Linked DNA regions of Homo sapiens: regions 2, 3 and 4 are each reported to be linked to region 1. The links are microRNA targets in miRTarBase. Many come from high-throughput screens and were not tested one by one. Region 1 holds a microRNA gene; each other region holds the end of a gene's coding sequence.

Evidence for each region. Region 1 holds the annotated microRNA hsa-miR-450a-2-3p (AUUGGGGACAUUUUGCAUUCAU, at 2,715-2,736, opposite strand). A microRNA usually pairs through its seed, bases 2 to 8, with sites in the 3' UTR of a target mRNA and lowers its output. Matches are read on the target gene's strand: a 7mer-m8 pairs with bases 2 to 8, a 7mer-A1 pairs with bases 2 to 7 and ends in A, and an 8mer does both.
Region 2: the mRNA of PER1 is a reported target of hsa-miR-450a-2-3p. The part of its 3' UTR that is shown has no 7-base or 8-base seed match.
Region 3: the mRNA of USP44 is a reported target of hsa-miR-450a-2-3p. Seed matches in the 3' UTR shown: 7mer-A1 at 2,757-2,763.
Region 4: miRTarBase lists BCL11A as a target of hsa-miR-450a-2-3p. The part of its 3' UTR that is shown has no 7-base or 8-base seed match.

What each region holds. Positions count from the first base shown.
Region 1 is chrX:134,537,815-134,541,981 of GRCh38, forward strand. It overlaps MIR450A2 (microRNA 450a-2), which reads right to left and starts at 2,793; the gene lies at 2,694-2,793. MIR450B (microRNA 450b) reads right to left here and starts at 2,448; the gene lies at 2,371-2,448. MIR450A1 (microRNA 450a-1) reads right to left here and starts at 2,617; the gene lies at 2,527-2,617. MIR542 (microRNA 542) reads right to left here and starts at 3,623; the gene lies at 3,527-3,623.
Region 2 is chr17:8,137,335-8,141,501 of GRCh38, reverse strand. It overlaps PER1 (period circadian regulator 1), which reads left to right. Exons shown (of 23, transcript NM_002616.3): 23 at 162-1,030. The coding sequence ends at 434. TRS-CGA1-1 (tRNA-Ser (anticodon CGA) 1-1) reads left to right here and starts at 2,540; the gene lies at 2,540-2,621. It overlaps TRT-AGT5-1 (tRNA-Thr (anticodon AGT) 5-1), which reads left to right and starts at 1,977; the gene lies at 1,977-2,050. RefSeq lists an enhancer at 935-1,613 and silencers at 2,011-2,060, 2,421-2,590, 2,611-2,670.
Region 3 is chr12:95,514,839-95,519,005 of GRCh38, forward strand. It overlaps USP44 (ubiquitin specific peptidase 44), which reads right to left. Exons shown (of 6, transcript NM_032147.5): 6 at 1,722-3,515. The coding sequence ends at 3,316. It overlaps METAP2 (methionyl aminopeptidase 2), which reads left to right. Exons shown (of 11, transcript NM_006838.4): 11 at 1-1,001. Among named protein-coding and RNA genes, the nearest start is that of USP44, 35 kb to the right of the region's middle.
Region 4 is chr2:60,456,922-60,461,088 of GRCh38, forward strand. It overlaps BCL11A (BCL11 transcription factor A), which reads right to left. Exons shown (of 4, transcript NM_022893.4): 4 at 273-4,167. The coding sequence ends at 3,483. Among named protein-coding and RNA genes, the nearest start is that of MIR4432HG, 68 kb to the left of the region's middle.

The DNA of each region.
Region 1 (4,167 bases):
TGTGTCCTTTAGACCCAGTATATTACAATGGAAAAAGCCCTGAAGCTCAAGGTTCAAGTTGTAACATTGCCCAATTCTCTGCACGACCTCTCTGCAACTTATTTTCTCTCTCTGCAACTTGGTTTTCTCTTCTGTAAAATGAGGGGCTGGACTTGTGTAAAATGAGGGTTTGTACCCTGTTAACAAAGGGAAGCCCTCAGCACCTTCTGCACCTGCCCCTCCTCAACCCCTCTTGGCATACTTCCAACTCTGAGAAGCAATCTCTGTACTGGCCAAATTCTAGGACATTTCACTGGTTCAGAAATTCAGCCGGGCGCAGGGGCTCACGCCTGTAATCCCAATACTTTGGGAGGCTGAGGTGGGAGTATCGCTTGAGCCCAGGAGTTCAAGACTAGCCTGGGCGATATAGTGAGACCCTGTCTCTCTGTCTTTCTCTATATATACATATATAGAAAGAAATTCAGGGGCTGAAGATTTTTTTTTCACTGGTCAACGAAAGGGGCTTAAGATCAATGCTCAATTTGGAATGATTTCTCTCTCTCTCTCTTTCTCAGCCCTAGAGGCGAGACCTCCCATTTAGAAAGGGGTCCCTCCCACACTCTGCCCCTATTCCATACATTTTGTCCAGCAGGGACTAGAGTGAGCCCTAGGGGAAAGGAGGCCACTTAGATGGTTGCTTAGCAAAGCAGATTCTCTGTGTGGTCTGACCTGGCTCAGACGAAGGTCAAAGCCTCAGCTGATCCCTGCTCTGTACCCAGTGGCAGACAAAGTATTCGTGTGTTCAAGGCCTCTCTGGCTCAGTATCACCTTAACCTCCGCTTCTCCCCTACCCGCTCCTCTATCCACAAGTAACTAGCACAGAGGTAGGCACCCAGTAAATATGCTCTGATTGACAGAGTGTGGCAGATAAAAATGCTTATGCTCCTTAAAGAGGAGTACACACATTTAAGCATGGGGACCAGTTTGGTTGTATGATTGTATGTTCTTAAGCAGAACAAGGGCAGGGCATCAGAAAATTGGAGGAATGGTCTCCTGTATCTTTGTAAATGGATATGTGTATATATATTTGCCTCACAACTCAGCTTCTCCTTTAAGGAATATGATGGATCTATTTTGAAAGTAATGTCGGCCGGGCACGGTGGCTCACGCCTGTAATCCCAGCACTTTGGGAGGCCAAGGTGGGCAGATCACGAGATCAGGAGATCGAGACCATCCTGGCTAACACAGTGAAACCCGTCTCTACTAAAAATACAAAAAAATTAGCCAGGCAAGGTGGCGGGCACCTGTAATCCCAGCTACTTGGGAGGCTGAGGCAGGAGAATCGCTTGAACCTGGGAGGCAGAGCTTGCAGTGAGCTGAGATCGCACCATTGCACTCCAGCCAGGGTGACAGAGCCAGCCAGACTCCGTCTCAAAAAAAAAAAAAAAAAAAAGAAAGTAATGTCTAGTCATATGGACTTGCTAGAGTGCCAAATATGTCCTTGGTGGGGGAACAGTTTCCCAAAATGCTACTAAAAAGATAGGAAGGAACTTAGATCCTCCTGTAATGTGTCTCTGTCCAAATCAGTGCCACTGAGGAACGCTAAAACCTTGGTAGGTGCCCTTCAGACCATGGGCCAGGTACGTGACCAAATGGTTCCATCTCTTACCAGAACAAGGATCGCCTAAATTGAGGTGTCACATGTGTTCTGCAACACCAGAGTTACTATGGAGCTCAGCTGAATTTGCGGGAAAATGCAGGGGGGGCTTTACCCGCATCTGCAAGAAGTTGGCTGAGTGGAAATAACCTAAATAAGGTGTTTTCCTGACTTGGGCATATCTCAAACTGGCCAATGCGTCTTGAGGCCCTGGGCGAGCATCCAAGTACCACCTTCCTGAATTGCTACTAGAGGAAAAGGAGCCTGTTTCAGCTTTCTATACTTCTTTAAATGTTACTTTGATTAGACATAGATAGCAGTTTGTTTACTAATATTACTATTATAACTCTGTCGTGGTTATATTTTTTAGTTATACTTTCTCTTTTCTTTGCCAAGAGCAAATGAAAACACATTTGCACTGCAGATCCAACTGAAGTTGTACAAAGGTTTCCCAGATATGTTTGAAAAAGTATTCTAGGCCCACTGCTGGCCAAATAGGAAGTCTTCCCCCACCCTTATGTCAGGGGTTCATGCTTTAAAAAAAATACAAACTCTTTTTAAAAATAAAATGTTTTATTATTGCTATAAAAGCAATGCATTTTATTGTTTATGCAAATATTACTTGGAAAATACATAAAAGTATAAAGAGAAAAACAAACATTACCTATAATTTTATACTATAATACTGTTACAAGTTTTGGTATATTTCTTCCTAGACTTTTCTCCATATGTTGATACAAAACTATGGATGCAAAATGATCCCAATACACTTATATTACATATTCAGGAACATATTGCAAAAATAATTCTGCATCTTACATTTATCACAGAAGTAAACCACAGATAGCCGCTGTTAGATTTTTTGCTTATTCCCTCCATCTTTTCATCTGTATATTGATACAAAACTATACATGCAAAATGTTCCCAATATATTTATAGTGCATATTAGGAACACATCGCAAAAACAGTTTAGTATCGTTTTTGATTGCCTATAGTGACACAAGTCAGCGATAACCACCTCTAGACTTTTGGTATACTTCCTGATAGCCTCTTTTCCCCATATTATTGATACAAAACTATGAATGCAAAATGTCCCCAATACATTTATATTACATATTAGGAACACATCGCAAAAATAGTTTAGCATCTTTCTTTGGTCACCTTTATACCACAACTCAGAGATAATCACAATAAAGTTTTTATATGTTTCCTCCTAGCCTTTTATCTGTATGTTGATACAAAACTATTCATACAGAATGCTCCCTATATACCTATATTGCAGAGATGGGAAAATATTTTGCACCTTTTTTCAATCGCTAAATGTTTTATCAGGAGCACATTCTCATGACATGAAAATTACTTTCAGAAACATTATTTTACATGAAAGCATCCTATTCTATTGTACTAGCTAGCTACGCTGTATTTTATTTGTCTAATCCTTTGTTGTTGGTCATTCAGGATGTTCCTAACTTCCATCCTTAAAATATTGAAATGAGCATCTTTATGCATTTTTTTTAACTGGGGCTTTCTGTTCATGTAGTTTTTATGGTTTTTCTTGACCACTTGTGTGGACTCAACATACTAAAAATGACCCTGTGTCTGTAATGCTTATAGCAAAGTGTTTTCCAGTTGTTTGCTTGAGCATAAATTCTTTATTTTAGCATTCTAGCACAAGTATAAAATCATATACCTTATGTAAGTTTCAATTCATTCAACAAACATTTAAAGCAATAAAGACACAAATAAAGGCATTCCCATTACACTCCTATGAAAACACAACTCATCCTCCCACCCCATCCCATAGCAACCCCTTTCTTCTTTGCTTAGGGCCCACTTTCCTCCTGATCTTTTCATTGATTCGTCTTGTAATACTTACCACATGTTTTGCTATGAAGATGAGTGGCTCCCAGACCTTTCAGTTATCAATCTGTCACAAGTGCACACTGGTATCTCGTGACATGATGATCCCCGAGATGTCTGAGATCTGTGCATCCTTGACCGATCCCAAATTTCTGTATCACCCATGACCCCTAAAGACTTTTTAGAGAATTATATTTTGACAACATAACAAGAAAACGTGGCATCTCACACACACACACACACACACACACACACACACACACACACACACACAAAACCATGAAAAAGTAGAGAAAGAAGAAACTTCAGCTCTAATCCCACCACCCTTAAGTAACAAGTATGTCTGTTTTGCAGGTTTCCTCCAGGTTCTGCTCCTATTTTTCAATCATGGTGTCCATGTGATTTTGTGGCCCTGATTTTTTTTAAGTTGATATCATAAGCATTTTCCAGGTTTCTGTATATTCTCTATCATTATTATTTGCAATGGCTGAAAAAGGTTCCATTGAGTGAGTGACTAGATTAAGTCAACCCCTATAGCTTGACACTTCATTTGTTTCCTTAAGATAATTTGATTGAATCTACAGAAAATAACAAACATGGGACAGAGGTTTAAAATGAATTTAAATCATGCTTTTTTGGTTTGTGCAGATTGACTTGTACACGGCTGGGTA
Region 2 (4,167 bases), not on the chromosome of region 1:
GGCACTGTCCAACCTTGTTGGACCGCAGGTGCATCTGTGTGGACTGGTGCTTCTTGGGAGTACATTTCGGGAAGCACAGTGGGCTGGGGGTGGGAAGCTGCGCTGGCAGGTTAGCAGTGAGAACCCTGTCTGACTCTCTCATGTCCATTTCTCTCACCAAGGCCTGTGTGGACTGTGGGAGCAGCACCCAAGATCCTGGTCACCCTGATGACCCACTCTTCTCAGAGCTGGATGGACTGGGGCTGGAGCCCATGGAAGAGGGTGGAGGCGAGCAGGGCAGCAGCGGTGGCGGCAGTGGTGAGGGAGAGGGCTGCGAGGAGGCCCAAGGCGGGGCCAAGGCTTCAAGCTCTCAGGACTTGGCTATGGAGGAGGAGGAAGAAGGCAGGAGCTCATCCAGTCCAGCCTTACCTACAGCAGGAAACTGCACCAGCTAGACTCCATTCTGGGACCATCTCCAGGAGTCCATGAGAGGCTTTCTTCTCCTATGTCCCAATTCTCAGAACTCAGATGTGGCTAGACCAACCAGTGGGAAACTGCCCCAGCTTCTCCCACCATAGGGGGCCGGACCCCCATCACCAGCCTAGGATCCAGGGGCTGCCTCTGGCCTCTTAGGGAGCAGAGAGCAGAACTCCGCAGCCCAGCCCAGAGGAGTGTCACCTCCCACCTTTGGAGAGGAATCCTTCCCTCCCCTGGACAAAGTTGCTGACAAGCTGCTGAAGTGGCCTCTCCATATTCCAGCTGAGCCTGAATCTGACTCTTGAGGGTTGGGGCTGCACTTATTTATTGCGGGGAGACAGCTCTCTCTCCCACCTCCTCCCCAGATGGGAGGAGAGCCTGAGGCCCAAGCAGGACCCGGGGGTTCCAGCCCCTAGCTGCTCTGGAGTGGGGGAGGTTGGTGGACCATGGAGTCCCTGGTGCTGCCCCTCAGGTGGGACCCAGGCGTTCTCAGCTGTACCCTCTGCCGATGGCATTTGTGTTTTTGATATTTGTGTCTGTTACTACTTTTTTAATACAAAAAGATAAAAACGCCCAGGACTTTGTGGAATGAAGTTTGGGGTTGGGGTGAGGGGAGCATGTCAAGGGGAGATGTGGCCCTGCTTTTGGGAAGGTTGTAGTGAGGGTGTACAGGGCCATCTCCTGACGACCCCCATTCCTCTTTTCCCCCATCCTGTCCAGGTGAGGGCCCTGCTGAGCCCGCTACGTCCACGTCCAGCTCAGACTCTGCTGTCCCCTCTAGCATGGCCTCAGCTGGGTTTGCCCTGGGAAGGAGAGCTGAGAGGTGCGTGTGGCCAAGGGCTTGGGTAAGCTCCAGCCCGGGTCACGGGTGGCCAAGGCAGAGGAACCCTGCTTAACTCCGTGGTGCCCTGAGGTATTCGAGGGTGTTTGTCTTCCTTGGCTTCCTTTTTTTTATTTGAGACGGAATTTCGCTCTGTCACCCAGCTGGAGTGCAATGGTGCAATCTCGGCTCGCTGCAACGTCTGCCTCCCGGGTTCAAGCGATTCTCCTGCCTCAGCCTCCCGAGTAGCTGGGATTATAGGTGCCCACCACCGCGCCCGGCTAATTTTGTATTTTTAGTAGCGATGGGGTTTCACCATTTTTGGTCAGGCTGGTCGCGGACTCCTGACCTTAGGTGATCTGCCCGCCTTGGCCTCCCAAAGTGCTGGGATTACAGGCGTGAGCCACCGCGCCCGGCCTTCCTTGGCTTCTTGGTCACCACACAGAGAGGGCCCTTCAGCAGGTCAGTCTAGGTAGCTAAGGGACACATGGAGTCATGTGCTCACTCATGGTTGAGTTGGCCCCAAAGGTGTGGAAGAATGGAGAAGCAAAGCATTAACCCTTTGGCTCAGAACCTGAAAGGGAAGAGGCACCTTAGGAAGGGATGAGTCACTGAGGAACCACTGCAGGCAGTTTGCTGATTTTCACTTACTGTCACCCACTAAGAGTTGATTTATCTTGAGGAACACCTGTTTTACGCCGGCGCCGTGGCTTAGCTGGTTAAAGCGCCTGTCTAGTAAACAGGAGATCCTGGGTTCGAATCCCAGCGGTGCCTGAGTTAGCGGGGAGTGATATATTATTGCTGCAAGTACACTTCTCCACTTTCAAAGGGCCTTTCTAAGAAACATTTCTTCTAGACTCTCCCTAAGATTCTTCTTACATGCCAATCCGTCTTTGGACCTCCGTTTCCCTGCACTTTTAGTGTGTATTGGAAACTACAGATTCTCACTTCGGTTTCATGAAGTAGCCTGAAGTAGGCATCTCAGGGTCTGTCCTCAAGAGTATGGAAGACAGGGCTCGGATTTGGACCCGTTTTGTTTCCATCCTATGCTCAGGGAGGAGAGGGAGAATAGGAAGGCTGCCGCTCCAATGGGGCTGCTGACGTCTGCTGGAGGGAAGGCATGGTCTGCGCCACCGAGCAGAGGCGCACGAGCGCAGACGTCTCTAGGCGGCGCGGGTGGAGCCGGGCGGAGCCGGGCGGAGCCGGCTGGAGGCGGGCGTGTTGATAGGCAGCTATAGTTGCACAGGGCCGACAGCGCACGCGGCTGTGATGGCCGAGTGGTTAAGGCGTTGGACTCGAAATCCAATGGGGTCTCCCCGCGCAGGTTCGAATCCTGCTCACAGCGTCACTAGTTTTGGTATTTAGGTATCTCGGTCTCTGGAGAAGGAAAAAGCAGTTTGTTTTCTGGTTCTTTCCTTGGAGAATCTCCCGCGTTATTCTGAGAATCTCAGAGACTCGGCCGTCAGGGACCAGCCCGCGAGCGCCCTCTTGCGATTCTCATAGTCCTATCGACCTGCAAAAACTTTTTTACTGCGGATTTCAATTCCTAACGCCACCACACTCGGGTGGCTCCTTAGTGCTACTCAGCAATCGTTACTTTCCTCCAATTCATTCACTCTCATACTGCCCCATGAGACTGTTTCATTCCTACCCTCACCTCAAACTACGAATCCCTTCTCAGCTTTTACTTCCTGATTCACTGAGAAAATAAACCATTCCGGAGTTCCCCATCAACATTCACATCGCACCTACCTACCTACCTACCTAATTGAGTCGGTGACCACGTACTCTTCTTTTCCTTCATTATTGTAGAAGAATGCTTCCACCTAAAGCCAACCCCTACTTTTACTAGATTTCCCATCCCTCTGGCCATCTCAAAGACACTGCTTTTTCCTATACCATCAAAATTTCCCTCTCAGCCGGGCGTAGTGGCTCACGCCTGTAATCTCAACACTTTGGGAGGCTTGACGGGTGGATCACTTGAGGTCAGGAGTCCGAGACCAGTGAAACCCCAATCTCTACTAAAAATACAAAATTAGCCGGGCGTGGTGGCTGACGCACGCCTGTAATCCCAGCTACTCGGGAGGCTGAGGCAGCAGAAGCTCTTGAATCCGGGAGACGAAGGTCGCGCCATTGCACTCCAGCCTGGGCAACAATAGCAAAACTCCATCTCAAAAAAAAAAAAATCCCTCTCTACTTGATTTTTCTCTTCAGCCTACAGACACTAATTTCCCCCAATTTAGAAGCAAGACAACAAAAGCTATCTTGACCCCACACGCCTGTCCAGCTACCACTCAATTTCTCTACTCCCTTCTACAGCAAACAGAGCAAGTTATCCAATTCCATCTTCCCACTCTCCTTTGGACCCTTGCTAATCAGGTGTCCACCGCCCCCATCAAAGCTGCCCTTGTTAAGGTTGCCGAATGATCATCACATTGCTAAATCTATTGACCATTACTTCGTGGAAGCTGATACCGATGCTCACTCTTCCATTAGAAACACTCTTCGCTTGCCTTCTAGGACACTACGTCCTTCTGATATTCCTTCTACTTCATCAGCAGCTTATTCTCAGACTTCTTTGCTGTTCCTCACCTTCTGGATCTCTAAATGTTGGACTGTTCCCAAGGCTCAATTTTCCAACCTCTTCTCTATCTGTACCCACTACCTTGGTCATTTCCAGTTTCATGGCTTTAAATATCAGGTAATACATTAATACATCCCAGATTTTCATCTCCAGCTCCAGAACTCCCCCCTGAGTTACAGATGCTTATGTATTATTGCCCACATATCATCTACACTTGGAAAAAGCTAATACAGATCACAAACTTAAAATGTGCAAACCAAGGCCGGGCGCGGTGTCTCGTGCCTGTAATCCCAGCACTTTGGGAGGC
Region 3 (4,167 bases), not on the chromosome of region 1:
TTCATTCATGAGGCAAATGCTGTAATACCTTCCCCTTTGACAGGTTTGGATTCTTAACATTACTAGTGGTATTTCAGGAAGTGACGTTACAGTTACTTTCCTTATAGCGGCTAAGTGTATTAAGTTGAATGTAACGATGGTAATATTAATTTGTTTGAACTGAGGCCCACTACTGATTCTTTGACAAATTGAATTCTTATATTTAAATAATTTTATGGGAATGTTCCATCATAATTTCTAAATCATTTATATATCAAGGTAGCCTTAATTTGTATATGTTTCAGTACAATGAGATTTTATTGCCTCTGGGATGCTGTTTAGTTTGTATTTTGTTGAACGTTTTTATCCTAGGAAGAGAAACCTATGACTTGTGTACCTAGATCATCTGTTACATTAAAAAGCTGCTCTTTCAGCATTAGAGCTATAAATGAATGTTACCTTGTCGGGAAACAATCTAGGTTTTAGCTGTATGAGCTATGTTTATTATGGTGCTAATGTTCAGTAGCCACATTTGACTAATGTCTCCATTCTCTGTGATGCTGTGGCTAGCAGCAGAGCTCGCCAGTTCATGCCTGGACATACTGTCAGGGCTGGGCCCTCCAGCTAGCTCCTTTGGGGTTGAGTCCGTATCTTTTTGATGTGGAAGTATAAAGCAAGTATCTTGATTTCTAAACCCAGCAATTTTAGAATTGACCTTTATGAGTGAAGACTTTTGGAGCTTTTAAAGACCTTGGCAGTCATGATCTCAAACCAATTAGGAGCTCCAAGCTCCCTTCCCAGGTAACTGTTGGGAGCAATGGCATCACTGTATGCCCTTGTAATGGCTGGAAGGGACATGATCTTGTAAGTAGGAAAGCTGTAACTAAAAATTGTATTGTTTGCTTATTAGCCATGTATCTCTTAAAATTTTGTTATGTTTACAACGATGTACCTTATTGGCAACAAGTTATTAGTTTGATGTTTAACAATAGTGCCTTTAGTAAATTATTTTACAACTAAAACATGTTGTTTTTTGTTAGATCAACTTAGCAGAATGTAGACGTCCATGTTGAGATTTAAGATAAATAGTAAGAAATCTAAGTTTCTGTTTATTGTTTAGGTTTTAATTTTATTGTTGGTATTTTGAGACATTTTTCACACTAAAATTTAGTGGAAAGTACTACAGATTTCCCAGACCCCCCCCCAATAATATCCCCCTTTTCCAAGCCTCCCCCCATAGGTGTTTGTTAGTTTTAAGGGATTAAAAAGTAAAGGGCTAAGTCACTTTGTTTTTTTTTTTTTTTTTTTTTTTTTTTTTTTTAGCGGGAGTCTCGCTCTGTCACCCAGGCTGGAGTGCAGTGGCGCGATCTCAGCTCACTGCAGCCGGGTTCAAGCTATTCTCCTGCCTCAGCCTCCTGAGTAGCTGGACTATAGATGCATGCTACCACGCCTGGCTAATTTTTTTTTTTTTTGTATTTTTAGTAGAGATGGGGTTTCACTGTGTTAGCCAGGATGGTCTTGATCTCCTGACCTTGTGATCTGCCCGCCTCGGCCTTCCAAAGTGCTGGGATTACAGGCATGAGCCATGGCGTCCGGCCTCTTGTATGTTTTTATATTGAAATAAGTACAAGCAACGATACCATTACAAATAGCTCAGGAGTTTTTACAGTTCCATTAAAATGACGTGCTAAAATGTATAACGTTAAAAATAGTCCTTGAAATTAGAAAAGAGTAGACTCTGGTTATCTTGACCATGTAAATTTTTAATGAGGTATTAAGAAGTGTGTAACAGTTGAGGTAACAACTTGCATAGGTATTATGAACAATTTTAAACATAGCCATTTAATATTCCAGATGTATTTTCGGCACAAATGATTTGTCTATTCAGTGATAAAAGTCTCACTGCACCTCACTATCAGCTAACCCAGATGACTTGTTTTGTGAAATTTAAGAAAAATTTATTGGTAGAGACCTCTTTCAAGTTTGTACTTAACAGATGATCACTAGTGGTGAACAGCATTCTACAGGATACTATCTTTCACTAAGACTTCAACCTGCAAATAAACCCACTTATAAAAAAGGGATACATGATCTTCCTGTGGTTAACAGAGCTTAGATACATAGCTGGTCTACAGAGATTAGTTGATTCTACCCTCTCCAAATAAGATAAAGTTAGCAGCAACAGGACTTTAAAGAAACCCAGTGAGATTATCAGAAGAAGAAAAAGAGTGACTCACACTGTATTTTTTTTTGTGCAAGTTTAGATAGATAGCTTTTAGTTTTTTTTTTTTTTTTTAATGCTCAGGGCCAGTGTTTTAAGAGGCTCCTACCTAGTAGTCACATAATCCTAGCAAGAGTAAATCAAGCTTTAGTTATTTAGAATGAGATGCTAGACATAATAATAGTCCAGTTGCCAATTTTGAACACTTATCTTTTCTGCCCTATAATTTTTTCTCTTCAAGACTCTATTCCTTTGAACTAAAAAAAATACATAAAGTTTTAAGAGATCTAATGTCATCAGACATTATAAAATGAACTCATACCCAAGGTAAACTATTTGAATAACATCATACACTGGTTTACTAAATTCAGACTTTTTATGACTGCTTAATTATTAGACTTCTGGACAAACCTGTTTGCTGCCAGACAAAAATCATAAATCCCAGCCATCATTTTTTTCATGTCCATAGTTCCAGAGTTCACTTAAATATACTATTTGTAAAGCTGCCATTTTCATTTATAGTTTGACTATGCCAAAGAGCAATTACTAAAGCAATTTTGGGGTTACATTAACCAAAATAATGTCAATTACAAGGCCTGTTAACACACAAAGCCTCAGAAATACCAGTGAGTGTGACTGAAGAATATTTAGGTGATACCTTGACATGTCACTTCAATAACTCCAAGGGGCAAGGTAACTTCAATATACAAATGAAAGACTATTAGTGACCAAAGTAGAGTCTAATTTTCCATCTATTAAGAATTTGTATAGAAAATACCTGAAAAAGATACATGTATATAAAATGATGCCACTTGAACTTTGTTGGTAGAAGATTGCACAAGTTCATCATCCGAGCCAATTAAGACATAAAAATATAAAAGAGGTAACATCAGTCTGAGGTAAACACCAAAAGTTTAAAACTCCAAATATGAAAAAAGTAGTTACCTTCAGTTGATATATACATTTATACTTTGTAAAAAAAAAAATTGTTAGATATAAAATGTATAAATGTAGTATACACTGATTCACAAGAAAAAATGAAGTTTAAAATGGTACATCAGTCTTTTAAAAAGTATATATATAAATCACAGGAAGAAAACCCCATTGTCTTTGGATCAGCTAAGGATTTCATTAGACGAGGTATCAGCGTCTTCATTGGGATGTTGGCTCCCCAACAGGAGCTCTGGAGGCAAAAGTTTAGAATGTCCATTCTCAGTAACTCGTTGGGTATAAAACAAGATATAAGCTTGAGCCTTGCATACTTCATCCATAGTGCACATGCTTAGTTTGGAATCATTGCAGTGTACCCAGAACCCTAGAGTGAAGCACAGAAATACATTTATGAAGGGACTTTAGAAAATTCTAGTATGAAAGGCATTGAGTGAGAAGCTTTTTCTGAAGGGAAAATAATTTTCTAGCCAATTCATTTTTCTTTAATGAGAAATATAGATTGGGCAGTGTTACCCTGGAATTATCTACCTTTATTCTAAAAGTAGCTTAAGTTTTTCACAGCATGTGACTGATTAGAGTACCTGACACTATTTATTCTTTGTGTAAATCTACCAGTTAATGCTTTTGCCACTAATCATACAGGATGATCATCCCTAATTCCAAAATCTGGCCAGGCATGGTGGCTCATGCCTGTAATCCTAGCACTTTGGAAGGCCGAGGCAGGCAGATCACCTGAGGCCAGGAGTTAGAGACCAGCCTGGCCAACATGGTGAAACCTGTCTCTACTAAAAATACAAAAATTCGCCAGGCGTGGTGGTGCACACCTGAATTCCCAGCTACTCAGGAGGCTGAAGCAAGAGAATGGCTTGAACCTGGGAGGCAGAGGTTGCAGTGAGCAAGGATGGCGCAGCTTGCCCTCAAGCCTGGGTGATAGAGGGACTGTCTTAAAAAAAAAAATTCCAAACCAAAACTTTTTGTGCCAACATGATGTCATAAGTAACCCTGAACACATTTTT
Region 4 (4,167 bases), not on the chromosome of region 1:
AGATGGAGTAAGTTTTTAACATCAGACTGAAAACACCTTCCATTTCTTGAAAACTATTCTAAACTGGAAAGCCTTAAAACTATGTCCAGGGTTTGAGATATGTCTATTTTAATATAGTAAGTACTTTATGTTCCTTTAGGGTATAATACACGCATCAGAATGCCCATAGAAATAATCCTGAAAAAGACTGACTGGCCTTCTCTTAAAACCTGTTATTTTCTTGCAAGTAATTTACAGAGTGTGTCAAATGAGGACACAAGAAGCTTACAATGTGTACTTTAATTTTTTTTATTTTTTCAATAAAGGGACAAAATGGGTGTATGAACAGGTTAATGCAGACAACTGCCAAAAAAACACAGACAGTGGTTTTTCCAATAGAACTTAACAAAGACCAGAAACAAATACAATAAAAAGCCAGGTTGTAATGACCTTTGGTCATCTAAATAAAAAAAAAAATAAAAACAAAGAAAAATAAAAGATCAAATTAAGTGCCTCTGTTTTGAACAGGGCACATAAGCAATAATAAATAGTGACTCCCATAGTAAAAGATAAAATTTCAAGTTACGACAAACAGCTTTCATTACAGGAATAGAAAAGGCCAATAACAAAATATTCTGCATTGCCATTTACAAAAAAGTATTGACTAAAGCGGGCTTTCTCTTTAATATGCTTTGCATATGAAATTCTTTCCAATCTAAATATAAAGCACCATTTAGTTTTTGGCAATGAAAAAAACTGCAAAACATTGGTTTTTTTTTTTTTTTCCTTTTTTTTTCTTTCTTTCTTTTACTGCATATGAAGGTAAGATGCTGGAATGTAGGGTGATAGAAGGAAAGGGACAAAAAGCACACTACATAACAAACCAACGTTATTAGCTTGCAGTACTGCATACAGTATGGCAGCAGGAAAAAGGAACAAAAAAGGATATGTACAACCCCTATGACAGCCATCCATGTGACATTCTAGCAGGCTCCCCCAAACCGCCATTATATGGCTTCTCATCTGTAATGTCACACTTTTTTGTTTCTCTCTTTTTTTTTTTTTTGAAGCATACAAATAATTTGCACTATATTATCCTGCCAAATTAAAAAAATATACTGTGGCAGCCTGTCTTTTTTTTTTCCACTACCAAAAAAGGTACATTGATACCTTTTAAGAGAACAAGCAACAGTTAAAAATACAAGCTTCAATATAAATACTATAGTGCCTAACACTAGATGAACATTTAATTCAAATACCATTCTAGAAATACAGAAAAAAGACCATAAATGTATTTTAGCATAGGAATCAACATGAGTGTGCATTTTCCTATATTTAAGTACTATATAATCTTAAACCTTTCCCCAATGTATGTTTTTTTTTTTTACAACCTGAAGAGCGGTGTGTATCCAAGGCATAGAATTTCCACTACCATTTTTAAATGGATAACAAGTCTTGTAACACCACCAAGACAATGGAACCCTAAAATGCAGTTCCCCCCTAAACATAATGAAGTGTTTTTTAAAAAAAATTTTTCTTAACATTTATATTTAAAAAAGTTTTGTACAAAAAAATCCTTGCACTGTAGAAGCGAAAGCAATCATTCATTTCTATGTTAAGTGTATTCTGTTTCCATTCACAGCGCTTGCAATGTTGCGTCCAAGTAAGTAAGCTCAATAGTCAAGTAAATGGCTGGCAAAGTTTTTTTTTTTTTAGTTTTTAAAAAATGCTCCTCAATGAGATTGTGTTCAATTTTTTTTCAGCATTCTTGCAACTTTTCCCTTAAGTATAGACCTGTAAACTGGGAAAATTGTACAGTGCACTTAATTGTCCTATCTGAGCAGGTTTATTTTATACTCAACCTCTGTATCTCTGATTAGAGAAAAGATACAGATATCACAGGCAGAGTCAAGTGCTATTTGAACACCAACTGGGGCAGATGCTAGCTTAATAAAAAAGAAAAAATTAAAAAAATAAAAATAAAAACAATGAATCCTCTTCCATGTTAACACAAATAGCACACAGTGTATGGAAAAGAAATGAAGTACAACTTTTAGGGAGCACAGACATATATACTGCTACTCTTAAAATTCTTTCTCTTCTTTTTTTAAGAATGTCACATTTAAATGCAAGTCTTAAGAATTCATAGTTAATCATCATTGTATCAATATTAGCTTATATACCTGTTCTAGTTTTAAATGGCAAATAGTACCACGTTGTGCTAATAAATCATATTATTTTCTTCTGTTCCCCTCTGTCAAACCTTATTGTCAGCCTCTTCCTTTCAATATGGTATACAAGGTCTTAAAGTTTATCATTTGATTGTCCACTTGACAACCAAGTAGATCTGGATCTATTTCTTTTGGTGCCAGTATTTTTAAAAAGACATTATTAAAGCAAATATCTTCATAAAATGAACTCCTTACTAGTGTATTTAATTGCGTTCCAGGGCTTTTGCACATTACACATTCAATTTAATCATTGTTTAAAAAAAATAAAACTTTGGGCAAAACAGCCCATTTCTTTTAAGCTCTCACCAGGAGCAAAGTAGCTTTTATACTGGTATAATCAGTTTTGTTTATAAAATTAAACTAAAGGAAAAATGATGATTAACTAGGACATAATGGGTCATCTTTTTAGGTAGCCATTGTTGTGAGAAATACAATATAGAATTATATGCTAGTTCCTAAGGTTTATTACCTCACCCAATGCTGAATTAAGCTACAAGTTTATAACAAGTAGAAAGAACCATCGATGTGGTTTTAATAGATCCAAGGCACTCATATTTTAAAACCAAATGATAGAATAAACTTGTTCTGTTTTTCTGTTAATTTGTCAATTCAAGGCCTTTTTTCTTCCTTTCCAATTGATACATTTAACCCTTTAGAGACAGACATTTAGCTCATAGAGATTTTTTTTCAGTGCTATCTATTCTGTCTATAGAGGGTTAATCCAAAGACTGTTTTTCCTCCTCACGTTATAAAATAAAACTGTACATGATATGTATTACAGAATGTATGCAGCATGGTCTTTTTCTCTCTCTCTCTCTTTTTCTCTCAGAACGGAACTGGAAACAGCAACATGTTTGCTCAGCAACGAATTAGGGACAATTTAAAATAGCCATAACATACCATACATGCTGTCTAAGTTTAAAAAAAAACATACACAACATGTAAATTATTGCACAAGAGAAAGGCTCAAAGTTTGCGTAAAATGCAATAGTATTGCCCCATACAGATCATGCATTCAAACGGTGAGAACATAAAGGAAAAAAAAAAAAAAGGAAAAAGAAAAAAGAAAAAGAAAAAGAAAAAAAACAGGTGTGCTGGTGACAAGCACTCTCATATTCTTAGCTTCGTTACTTCTGTTTGTTTGTTTGTTTGTTTAAATCACATGGGACTAGAAAAAAATCCTACAGGGAGTGGGGCTGGAGGGCGATGGGGAAGGGGAGTGGTGAAAAAGGGGGTGTCAGGTGGGAGTGAGGGAGGGGTATTAATATACCTCTATTCAGTTTTTATATCATTATTCAACACTCGATCACTGTGCCATTTTTTCATGTGTTTCTCCAGGGTACTGTACACGCTAAAAGGCATCTTACAAATTTCACATTTGTAAACGTCCTTCCCCACCTGGCCATGCGTTTTCATGTGCCTGGTGAGCTTGCTACTCTGGGCACAGGCATAGTTGCACAGCTCGCATTTATAAGGCCTTTCGCCCGTGTGGCTTCTCCTGTGGACAGTGAGATTGCTACAGTTCTTGAAGACTTTCCCACAGTACTCACAAGTGTCGCTGCGTCTGCCCTCTTTTGAGCTGGGCCTGCCCGGGCCCGGACCACTAATATGGGGCGTGCTCCCTCCACTTCCCGTGCCGCTGCGCCCCGAGATCCCTCCGTCCAGCTCCCCGGGCGGTGTGGAGAAGCGCAAACTCCCGTTCTCCGAGGAGTGCTCCGACGAGGAGGCAAAAGGCGATTGTCTGGAGTCTCCGAAGCTAAGGAAGGGATCTTTGAGCTGCCTGGAGGCCGCGTAGCCGGCGAGCCACTGCGAGTACACGTTCTCCGTGTTGGGCATCGCGGCCGGGGGCAGGTCGAACTCCTTCTCGAGCTTGATGCGCTTAGAGAAGGGGCTCAGCGAGCTGGGGCTGCCCAGCAGCAGCTTTTTGGACAGGCCCCCCGAGGCCGACTCGCCCGGG